2 linked regions of the Homo sapiens genome follow. The protein of the gene in region 1 interacts with the protein of each later gene in a pairwise test. Each region holds a gene or a part of one and is shown on either strand. Other genes may lie near its edges.

Region 1 (5,243 bases):
GAAATTATGAAAACAATTAAATTCACAATAGTATTAAAAAGAATAAAACCCTGACAAATAAACTTAATCAGAAAGGCAAAAGACTTATACACTGAAAACTATAAAACACTGATAAGGAAATTTTTAAAGACACAAATAGAGGTAAATACATTTCATGTTCATGAATCAGAAGACTTAATACTGTGAAAATGTCCATACTACCCAAAGCAATCTATAGATTCAATGCAATCCCTACAAAAATCTGAATGGCATTTTTTACAGAAATATTAAAAAATCCTAAAATTCATCTGGAACTACAAAGGACCCTGAATAGCTAAAACAATCATAAGAAAGAAGAACAAAGCTGGAGGCCTCACATTTCCTGATTTTAAAACATACTACAAAGCTATGTATGGTAGTATGGTACTGGCATAAAGTCCAACATATAGACCAGTGGAAAAGACTAGAGAGCCCAAAAATAAACCCACACATACATAATCAACGGATCTTTGACAAGGGTGCCAAGAATTCACAATGGAGAAAAGATAGTCTCTTCAACAAATGGTGCTATACATATGTAACAAACCTGCACGTTGTGCACATGTACCCTAGAACTTAAAGTATAATAATAAAAAAAAATGGTGCTAGAAAAAAATAGATACTCACATGCAAAAGGGCATGGCCCTGGAGATAGCCAGACTGAGTTTAAAGCCTTGCTTACCAACAAGTTAGTTATCTTCTCTATCTTAATTTCCTCATCTACAAAACGGGGATAATAAAGGTAACTTCCTCCTAAGGCTGTTAGGAGATTTAAAGGTGCTTAGACTAGCCCCTAACAAACAGTTCTAATTTAATTATTGTTATTATCAGTGGGATCTGAGAAATGGAGCCTCGATTTCCTTTTTTGTAAAAGGGAGATAAGATCTAACTTGTCAGGTTAGTGGGACAAAGTGAATGACGTAGCAAATGTAAAGCCCCAGTCCACTTCAAGGTCTAGAGGAGTCAGAGAAAGTCCACTGAGCTCCACGGTGAGCTTGTTCCCAAAAGGCTGGGGAAAAGGGACCCCAACAGAGAATATTGGGAAGAGGAGACCAAAGGAAGAATCCTTTCCCTCACACTGGGTGGGTCACCACAATAACACCCTAAAGCCAAAGCCTTCTCTCTTCTACCAATCTAGTCAGAGAGTCACTAGCTGGTGTTTTTCATTACCTTTTAGTCCCAGAGTCCCAGATGAATGTGTACAATCAGGAAAGAGGGGTTTAGCCAGCTGGGTTGAAAACCTAATGTTTAACATTCTTACTATGTTACCATACTTCCTCTAAACCACTCCTTCAGGATCTTGGAGTAATCCACCAAAACACATTCACTGATATACTAGTGAACAAATTTCAAAGTTTACATCTCTTTCCCCATTTGATCCCACAGTGAGATGGGCAGTTCAGCATTCTCCATTTTACAGAGAAGAAATGTAGAAATTGGGGACTGATTCACCCTGACCAGCCCTCATCCTTCTGGCCCAGGGATTTTTTTGTTTTTTTTTTTTTTAAACAATACTGACCACTGGAGCCTCTTTTTGGAAGCAGTCTCTGCCACCTGACCCCCAGAGAAATGTAAGACGTAGATTTGTTCTCCATAATGACATTAATGCCTTTTGCAAACATTTACTGAATCTAGAAGAAATATAATTGCAGAAAGTAAAAAGTTTCCTCTTCAAAGTTTCCCTTCTTGTTAAATAATAAATCATAAATGTTAGAAATAATAGTTTCTTTTAAAATTTTTCTTCAAGCCTCCTTGCTTTGTGCTAATAACTCTTTGTTAAGCATGTAGCTGTTGGACATGCTCACAGGCATGTTCCAGCTCACAGCCTATGCCCCTTTCTTATTTGGAAATGTTATTACTTCTTTAAATTTTTCAAAAGCAACTTCCTCTTTTCCTTTGTTCTCCCTTGCCTTTACCTATCTAAAAAAGTTTTAGGCTCTTAGCAAATCGGGTATCAGTTTAGACTGTGAGGTTCGGCTCCAGCCAGTGGATGCAGGACACAGCAGTGAGGACAACCCAAATGTGTAAGGGATAAATATGTCTGCTTTTCCTTTGTTTGGTGTACTCTCGTGGCAAGACTGCTGGTGAGTATACCCTTTCCGCAGAAAGTAAAAATTGCCTTGCTGAGAGAATTAAATTTATGTTCAAGCGCTATTTCTTTGTGGCACCGGGGAACAAGCATTTTGCATTTCTAACATAATGATTGTGGTAAATGTCAATAAAAATCTTGAAGCACATCTCTCCTTAGAGTTTTTGGTAAGAGTTTATGGAGGAAAATCTATATAATCAAATGAAAATATCACAGTAAAACTCTAAATGCATCATAGAAATTAGCAACCATTAGTCAGTTTGCCTGTTTCAGAGAAAGCTCAGAAGAAACTCAGTTTACCTCTACAATGTTAAATGATGTTAACACCTTCTCCTAAAGCATTTTACTTTCCCCATCAACAAAACAGAGTATATCAGCTGAAATAGGCCACAGACCTCATTGTCTGTCTGTACGAAACTGGGGCAAAAATGAACTCAGAAAGACAAGTAATAACCTGGTAGCAATCCATGGAAAGTTAACCTTGCTGACATTCCTCTTCACTTCCCTCTGTTGGATGTTCCTGGAATTTGCATTTGTGGAAAGTTGCATACTTGCAGTGAACAAGTTCCACTGGTCCTGTTGTAGTGGATTCCACCTAACCTTTTATTCCTCTCATCCCTGTCCAGCTAACGTTCTCTCACTGTTCAGCATATGTACGTCAAAGACAGAAGTGCATGAAGACATGTGTAAAGATGCAAAATTCCCCCAGGAAACTCATTATCTAGAGCAGCCAGGGCCAATCCTCTCCTCCTCCCAGGGATTCCTAGCAATATCTGGAGACATCTGCATCAGTCATGACTTGGGGGAGGGGGGTACTATTGGCATCTACCGGGCAGAGGCCAGGAATGCTGCTGCACACGCTACAATGCACAGGCCAGCTCTCCACAACAGAGAAGTATCCGGTCCAAAATGTCAGTGGTGCTAAGGTTGAGAAATCCTGACCTAGAGGGTGAGATGAGACATATAATACAGGGTTAAGTGTGGCAGAGCTGTAATAGAGCTAAAACTGGAGTGCTATCAGATTGATAACATTTAAACAAGCGGCTATTACTTGCCAACAAGTGTTGGCAAGAATGTGGGGAAAATAGTACCCTCATAACATGTTGGTGAGAATGTAAACTGATAGAACTTTGGGGGAAGGCAATTTGGCAATATCTAATGAGACTTTAAAATATATACACTATTCCTCTTTGCTTTCCTTCCATTCCTATTTTCTTTCTTCCTTTCCCTTCTCTTTTCTTCCTTCCCCAGAACACAGCAATCAGCATGTAGCTGGGAATGCAACGTGAGGCTGGGGAGTTTGGGGAGGTACATAGAGACATGAGCTATGGCTGGGAAGAGCTGTGAGCTAGAGGGACTGGAGACTGATGATTAAGCTACATAGAGACACAGGCTAGCAGGCCTGGCAGCCGAGGACAAGAGGCAGTGGCAAAGGTGGTGGACACAGAGGAGGCAGGATGACCTTCACATTTGTAAGACTGGTTACTGTATGCAAATAAGCAAAAATATTGAAGATAATGAGAGTCAGGTTTTCTAACTGCCAGAGAAGATATGTACAAACATATAAAGGGGGAAGAACAGAAAGCTCTTTGGGTGTTAGATTGAAATTGTAGGTATAAGTATGAATCATGATTTTATAATACACAGCCTAATATAGAAAAATTTATAAATGTGTGTACACATATACACATATATTTCCTAGCTCTGTCCTCTGAGAGATCTAGAAGCAATAATACCCCAGTAACAATGGGCACATCAACCTCCTATGTATTGGTGTCTAAATACAATTCTCATATTGCATATTAGATCTCAAGACTTATTCATCCTACATAACTGCAACTTCGTACCTTTTAATCTACATCTTCTGTTTTTCCCTGTTTCCACTAATGTACAACACAAGGACTACAGTTACTAATACTGTATTGAGGCTGAGCATGGTAGCTCATACCTGTAATCCCAGCACCTGGGATGCCAAGGCAGGAGGATGATTCAAGGCTGGAGTTGGAGGCCAGCCTGGGCAACACAGCAAGACCCCTCCTCTAAAAAATATTTTTTAAATTAGCCGGGAATGGTGGTGAGCACCTGGAGTCCTAGCTACTTGGGAGGCTGAGATAGGAGGACTGCTCAAACCTAGGAGTTAGAGGCTGCAGTGAACTATGATCACGCCACTGCACTCCAGCCTGTAGTACAGAGCAAGACCCTGTCTCTAAAAAAATTAAAATTAATAAATATTGTATTCTGCTAATTTGCCAAGAGAGTAGATTTTAGGTACTCTTATCACAAACACAAGAAAGGTAACTATGATGGGCATGTCAATTTGCTTGACTGTAGTAATTACTTCATTACATCTATGTTTATCAAGATAAATACATGAAAATATCATGTTGTATGCCTTAAATATATAAAATATAAATAAGACAAAAGTACCATTCTCTACTAAAAGGGAGGCCTAACTAGGTCAAGGAAAGTAGAAGATGAGTCCAGATGATCTGGTGGAGCCAGAAAATAAAGAAATGCTCAATGAATAATAGGGATGTGTTAAAAGGACACAGGAGGCAGCTCCAAGGGGTCCCCATTGGCCAAATTGAGCACAATTTGAGCATTAAAATAAAAAACAATCGTGAGACTTCAACTTATTGAATACATAAGGAATCCATGAACAGTTCTTAGTAAAAACATAACAGAAAAATAAAGTTCTTCCTTATAGTAGTATGCCAACTAACAAATGTAGAAAGAGTGACGGTGATAAAGAATCATCACTTGAGGCTGGGTGCAGGGGCTCATGCCTGTAATCCCAGCACTTTGGGAGGCCAAGGCAGGTGGATCACTTGAGCTCAGGATTTCGAGACCAGCTTGGGCACCATGGTGAAACCAACTCCATCTCTACAAAAAATACAAAAAAAAAAAAATAAGCCAGGTGTGGTAGTGTGCACTTGTAGTTCCAGCAACTTGGGGGGCTGAGGCAGGAGGATCACTTGAGCCCAGGAGGTTGGGGCTGCAGTGAGCCAAGATCATGCCACTGCACTCCAGCATGGCAACAGAGTGAGACCTTGTCTTAAAAAAAAAAAAAAAGAATCACCATTTGGCAACATTCATAGAGGTGGCTGATTCAGGCAGACGTCATCAATAAATGGTA
Region 2 (5,243 bases), on another chromosome or scaffold:
GAGCTGGGACAGGATGAGCTCCACGTGTGTTCTGGGTTGGGGGGTGGTGCCCCTGACACACACAAGACAATGATGATGGTGGTACTGTTTGGAGAGGCTATGAAGGGATTTCCTGGGGCCATGAGAATAAGAACTGCCCCAGAGGAGGTGATGCTGGGGCAACCTTTGAGGGGCAGGGAGGAGTTAACCAGGTGGAGAGGGCAGGGGGGTCATAGAGGTGTGAGAGCAGGCAGGGGAGTGTTGGGGCTGCCTGGCTTGAAACCTGCCCTCCTGTCTTCCTTGGGGGCCAGCTCAGGTCTGAGGCTCTTGGCTTTAGTCTCTGATTTGCATGTCATCATCAGGGACGTTGTTGCGTCCCATCAGGGCCAATGGTGGTCCTTGTGCTGCAGGCCAGAGTGTCCTGTGTGTGTGTGTTTGTGTGTGTGTGTTAACATCTGTTCCTGAGTCACTTGACCTTCCAAATGCCAAAGTAGTGCCAATGGCCCCCAAGCTGGGGAAGCCCCACCTCCATCCACCCAGCTGCCTGCCTCTCCTCTGACCCTTGTCCTGTGTCTGTCTCTCTGCCCTGTCACTGCCTCTTTGGAACTCGATAAAAACTGGCCTCCCCTCAGCTCCCAGGGAAGGAAATTTACCTGGTGGCGGGAAATAAAGCGCCCAGCCAGAGGCTTCTGTTCCTCCCTTGGGTCCCAGCCGACACAGGGCTCTTGGAGTCGTGGCTTGGCATGCGGAGGGCTGGGGGACAGAGCTATTATCAGGGGATTCTAGGCAGTGCACCCCCTTGCCTCGGAGCCCACTCCCCCAGGCCAGGGCCCCACTTGGAGTCATGGTACCATATGAAGGAGACCCATGAACAGTGGAGAAGGGGCTGGGTATGTTCACCTCCCAGCCACCCCAAGGGCCTTCCACCACAGTGTGCCCCCCTGCTTCCCATGATCCTTGTATGGGGTCCTCAGGTCTTTGAATGGTTCCTCCAGCTCCCCCCACCCCCCTCCCAGTAATGAAAATCATAAACCAAGCGCCTCCTGGTCAGAGCCCTGCAGCCCCTTCACCGCTAAATGGGAATAAAGTTAGAACCGTCCTCACGAGGTTGGTGTGAAGATAACTGAGGTAATGCTTGGACAGCCCCGAACCACAGGGCCTGGCATACAGTAAATGCTCAATAAATGTTGGCTACTATTATTACTACTGTTGGTTGTATTATCATTTCCCCTCCTGTAGACTCTCTCGTCTCCCTCCACCTCCATGTTCACCATCCTGGCTCAAGCCACCATGGTTCCCCTCAGGCTCACCTCCCCGGCAGCCCCCCAGCTGCTCTCCCACCTCCAGCCCCTGGCTGCTCCAGTTTATCCTCCACCTGGCAACCACAGAGGTCTTTTCAACTCACGGGCCTGTCAGATCGCCCGAGCCTGCTTAGAACCCTTCAGTGCTTCGCCAGCCCGTGGCCCATACTGTGGCCTCTCAGGCCCTGCCTGTCCCTCCAGTTTCCTCTGACCTGACTGTCTCCATCGCTTACCAAACCCCAACCACCCAGCCTCGTTTCAGCTTCTTGCACCTGCCAGGTTCCCCTGCCTCAGGGCCTTTGCACATACCCTGCCTTCTGGAGCGCTCTTTCCTCTGGCTCACCCCTCTTTATCCCCGACACCCCACCTCAAACAGCAGCTCCTCAGTGATGCCTTCCCGGGCCCCTAGGCTGGGTTGGAGTCAGAACCAGGGCCCTTCCTGGGAGAGAAGCTCTCTGATTTCTAATAAAATGTTCATTAGCAGCCTTGTTTGATTTGGGCTCATCTCTCCTCTAGACTGTAAGCCTCTGGCATGCTCTATAGAATAGGAGCTGTTATCATGACAGATGAGGAAGTTGAGGCCCAGAGAGGAGTGCTCTACCTGAGGCCCCTCGTGAGCGGGTTAGCTGAGGGCTGGCTGGGAAACTCGTATCTCCTGACTCCTGGCTCACAGGTGCTTTGTGTCACATCGCCTCAGAGCATTTGGAGTCTGTGCTCCTTGACTCTGAGCAGGAGGCCTGGCCTCTGCCAGAAGCTTTGGAGGGGATTGGCTGAAGTCTATCAAGGAGGGAGGTGGTGGTTGTCTCAGAGGTGGGGGAGGGGGTTCAGTGGGGGCTCATTCCAGGGTCCACTGCCTGGGCTGAGGATCTCAAGGCCTCCACGACAGCTGAATATAATGCCTCTGGCTATTCTGAGCGGTCTCATGACCAGGGGATTCACTCTAGACCAAAAGGTCAGGGCCTTGAGCCACTGCCTCCCATCAGCTCTGGGGCCAGCCTGGCTACCACCCCAGCGTGAGCTCCCCTCTGCTAGGTGCAAGGTTAGAGGAAAAGGAGGGCCTGACAGGCTGCAGGGGTGCTTTGCTCTTCAGTCCTTATTCAGGGGAACCATTTAGGTGGTAGGGACCACTTCACATATGCATGGGACTATTGCAGGGAATGGGTGCTCCCAGGCTACCTCTAGTCAATATTTTCATTCAGTGAAAATAAACAGGCTCAGAGAGGGAAAGACACTTGCTCAAGACAACACAGGGAATCAGTGAGACTCAAACTCACAGCCTAGGCCTCTGGTCCCAGGGCCTGACCATCTGAATTTCTTTTGGCTCTCAGTTTTACAAGAACACCAAACCCCACCTGGGCGTGCTGTTCTTCTCTTATCTACTCCCATTAATTTCCTTCCTGGGGGAAGTGGAATACACAGATACCTGCATTCCAAGGACACGGCACAGCTGATTGAGACCTTCTCACGTCAGCCAACCCAGACTTGACCCAAATCCTTAGGATTCCCCAAGCAGGATTTTCCAGAACCCCCTTCCTTTCTTGAATCACGCAGTGTCAGACACTGTCTTAAGGACTTGATTTATATATCCTCATTTATTAATAATTCTCACAAGGCTCTCAAGGCTGCACTATACTATCACGCCAATGACACAGACAAGGCTGCAGAGGCTCAATGAAGTTAAGTAACTTACCCAAGGTCACTTAGCTCATGCGCGGTGGAGCCAGCAGTCAGACCTCAGTCTGTCTGACGCTGGAGCTCTATCTGTAACTATTACACAGCACTGCCTCCTGTCCATGTTCCAGGGATGGTGAGGCCTGTGGCTTGCTGTGCCCCAGGTTTGAATTTCCGTCTGGGTCTCTCCCTCCCCACCATCCACTCTTTCCCAACAACCTGTCCAGAACCTGTCAGCAAGTTCTGGCCCCTGGGTAATGGCAGGTGAGGGCCCTGCCTGGCCAGGCCATGGGCTAAGAGGGCGCTCTGTCAGTCCCAAGGAAGGTTTTGTGACAGTGCCTCAATTGTCCCCCCACTCCCATCCATGCAGCCCCTGGGACTCCATATGGCCTAAAGTGAAATGCCAGGAGGATTGGGAGGATCAGAAGCTGCTTGTGCAGGGCGGCACATGGTGGGAACGCTGGCCGCCCCTCAGCTCGGCACTCCAAGGCCTTCTGCCCTGGAACCCAGCCACAGCTCCTGCGGCTCCCTTCCGCCAGCCTCCTCCCTGGTCCTCATTGGCAGCCCTTTAACCTCTGGGGTTTTGGTCATCTATTCCCCTCACTTCAGTGTCCTCCCTGCTTTTTGCTGAACGTGAAAATCCATCCCTTAAGGTTCCTCACACTTAGCCTGGCTGCTCCTGCCCTCGCTGACGTCATGTTTTTGGGAGTGAGGGGTATGCACTGGGCACTGAGTCATCCAGTTTGTGAGATGTGAGCTGGTGATGAGTAGGTCAGTTCTGGAGGCTGGGGGCTGGGGACAGGCGGGCCCTCAGGATTAGAGACCAGCCCCGGTGTGTGGAGAGATGAGGCCACAGGCAAGACCCAGGTTGTAGGCATCAGACACCTGGATTAGAGAGGAATCTAGCCAGGCTGTGAAACCAGCTGGGCTACCTTGAGCAAGTCCTGTGGCCCCTTCATCCTGCAGTTTTTCCACCTGTAAAATACAGAGGTCGTGCTAACTGACGGCTAAGGCTCTTCCCAACTCTGACATTCTGGGAGTCCAAGAATTCTAGGCTTCAGCTTCCCAGAGGAGCTGGGGAAACCAAGCCAGTCCTCCCCTATTTCTCCTTCTCTCTCCCAGCCCAGCTCCTCCCCAGGGCACGTGTGAGCAATCCTGGCAAAGGTCCTGGCCCAGAGCAGGCAGGAGCCCAGCAGGAAGGGGTCTAAAAAGCTTCCTCCTACATTCATTCAGCCTGCCTCATCCTGTCCTCACTCATTCATTCAAGGCATAGTGATCGCACCCCTGCCTGACGGGCTCCCCCAGCCCTCTGGCAGGCACAGACCTGGGGGGATCACCTCTTTTGGGGGTGCTTGCTCAGGCCTATGGACAGCACCCATTGCCCGCTTCTCCAGGCCCTTCTCTTCGCTTCCTGCCCTTAGGGAGCTGCAGAAAGGCCCACTTGGAGCTCCTGTGTGCCAGGCTGTGGGGTCTGGAGCAGGGGCAGTGGGGCCAACTTCTATGGTGTAGGGCTGCTGTGGGGAAGGGCGCAGGGGATGGGTGCTGTGCTGGAAGGGCCAGGGCTGGGTAGGGGTGTTTGCGATGGCTGCTATGGGGGATGGAGGGGTGGCTGCTGGAGGACTCCCACCCATGCCTGACCCTCAGAATTACCTGGGATGCTTAAAGTTCATACTCCTGGGAAACTCGATTCTTAGATCAGGGAGGGGGAGAATGTTCCCTTCACCCCTCAGCACAGCTGAGGCCACTGCTGAGTGAGGGTACATCGCTGCATTGGGGCCTGAGAGGTGTGGGCTCCTTCCATTCAAGGTGTGGCCCTCTGACCAACAGCAACACCATGAGGACATTTGTTAGACGTGAAGCCTTTCAGGCCTCACCCCAGCCCTGAAACCGATTCAGAATCTGCATTTTCACTCCCCAGATGATTCATGCACGGTGGAGTCTGAGAAGTGCTGATGCAGGCAGCGGCTCCAGTCGAGGGCCAGCCTCAGGACACAGAGGGCTGGATGGGCGTGTGTGGGTTGGCAGAGTGTCACAAGCAAGCCGCTCCTTCCTGAGGCTGAGGCTTCGATGGCAGGGGGACTGGGCCTGGGGTGAGGCCCCATCACAGCCATGGCAACCGCATCCATCTGGTGGCTCCCACTGGTAGACCTTGGGAGTCATCCTGGACTCCTCTCTCTCTCAGACATCAACCAACCCTGTTGTCTTCATGTTTCAAGTACACTCGGAATCTGAGTGCATCGCACCCCTCCACAGCTACCCCCCCGTGGAAGCCCCTGCCCTCTCTTGCCTGAG

Evidence for each region. The genes of interacting proteins can lie anywhere in the genome.
Region 2: the proteins of LPAR3 (region 1) and KCNC1 interact in binary tests that used the Homo sapiens proteins (3 or more experiments, as listed by UniProt).

Annotation. Positions count from the first base shown.
Region 1 is NC_000001.11:84,882,212-84,887,454, forward strand, and holds part of LPAR3 (lysophosphatidic acid receptor 3), read right to left. Parts: intron 1-5,243. UniProt on the Homo sapiens protein: Receptor for lysophosphatidic acid (LPA), a mediator of diverse cellular activities. May play a role in the development of ovarian cancer. Seems to be coupled to the G(i)/G(o) and G(q) families of heteromeric G proteins.
Region 2 is NC_000011.10:17,740,240-17,745,482, forward strand, and holds part of KCNC1 (voltage-gated potassium channel KCNC1), read left to right. Parts: intron 1-5,243.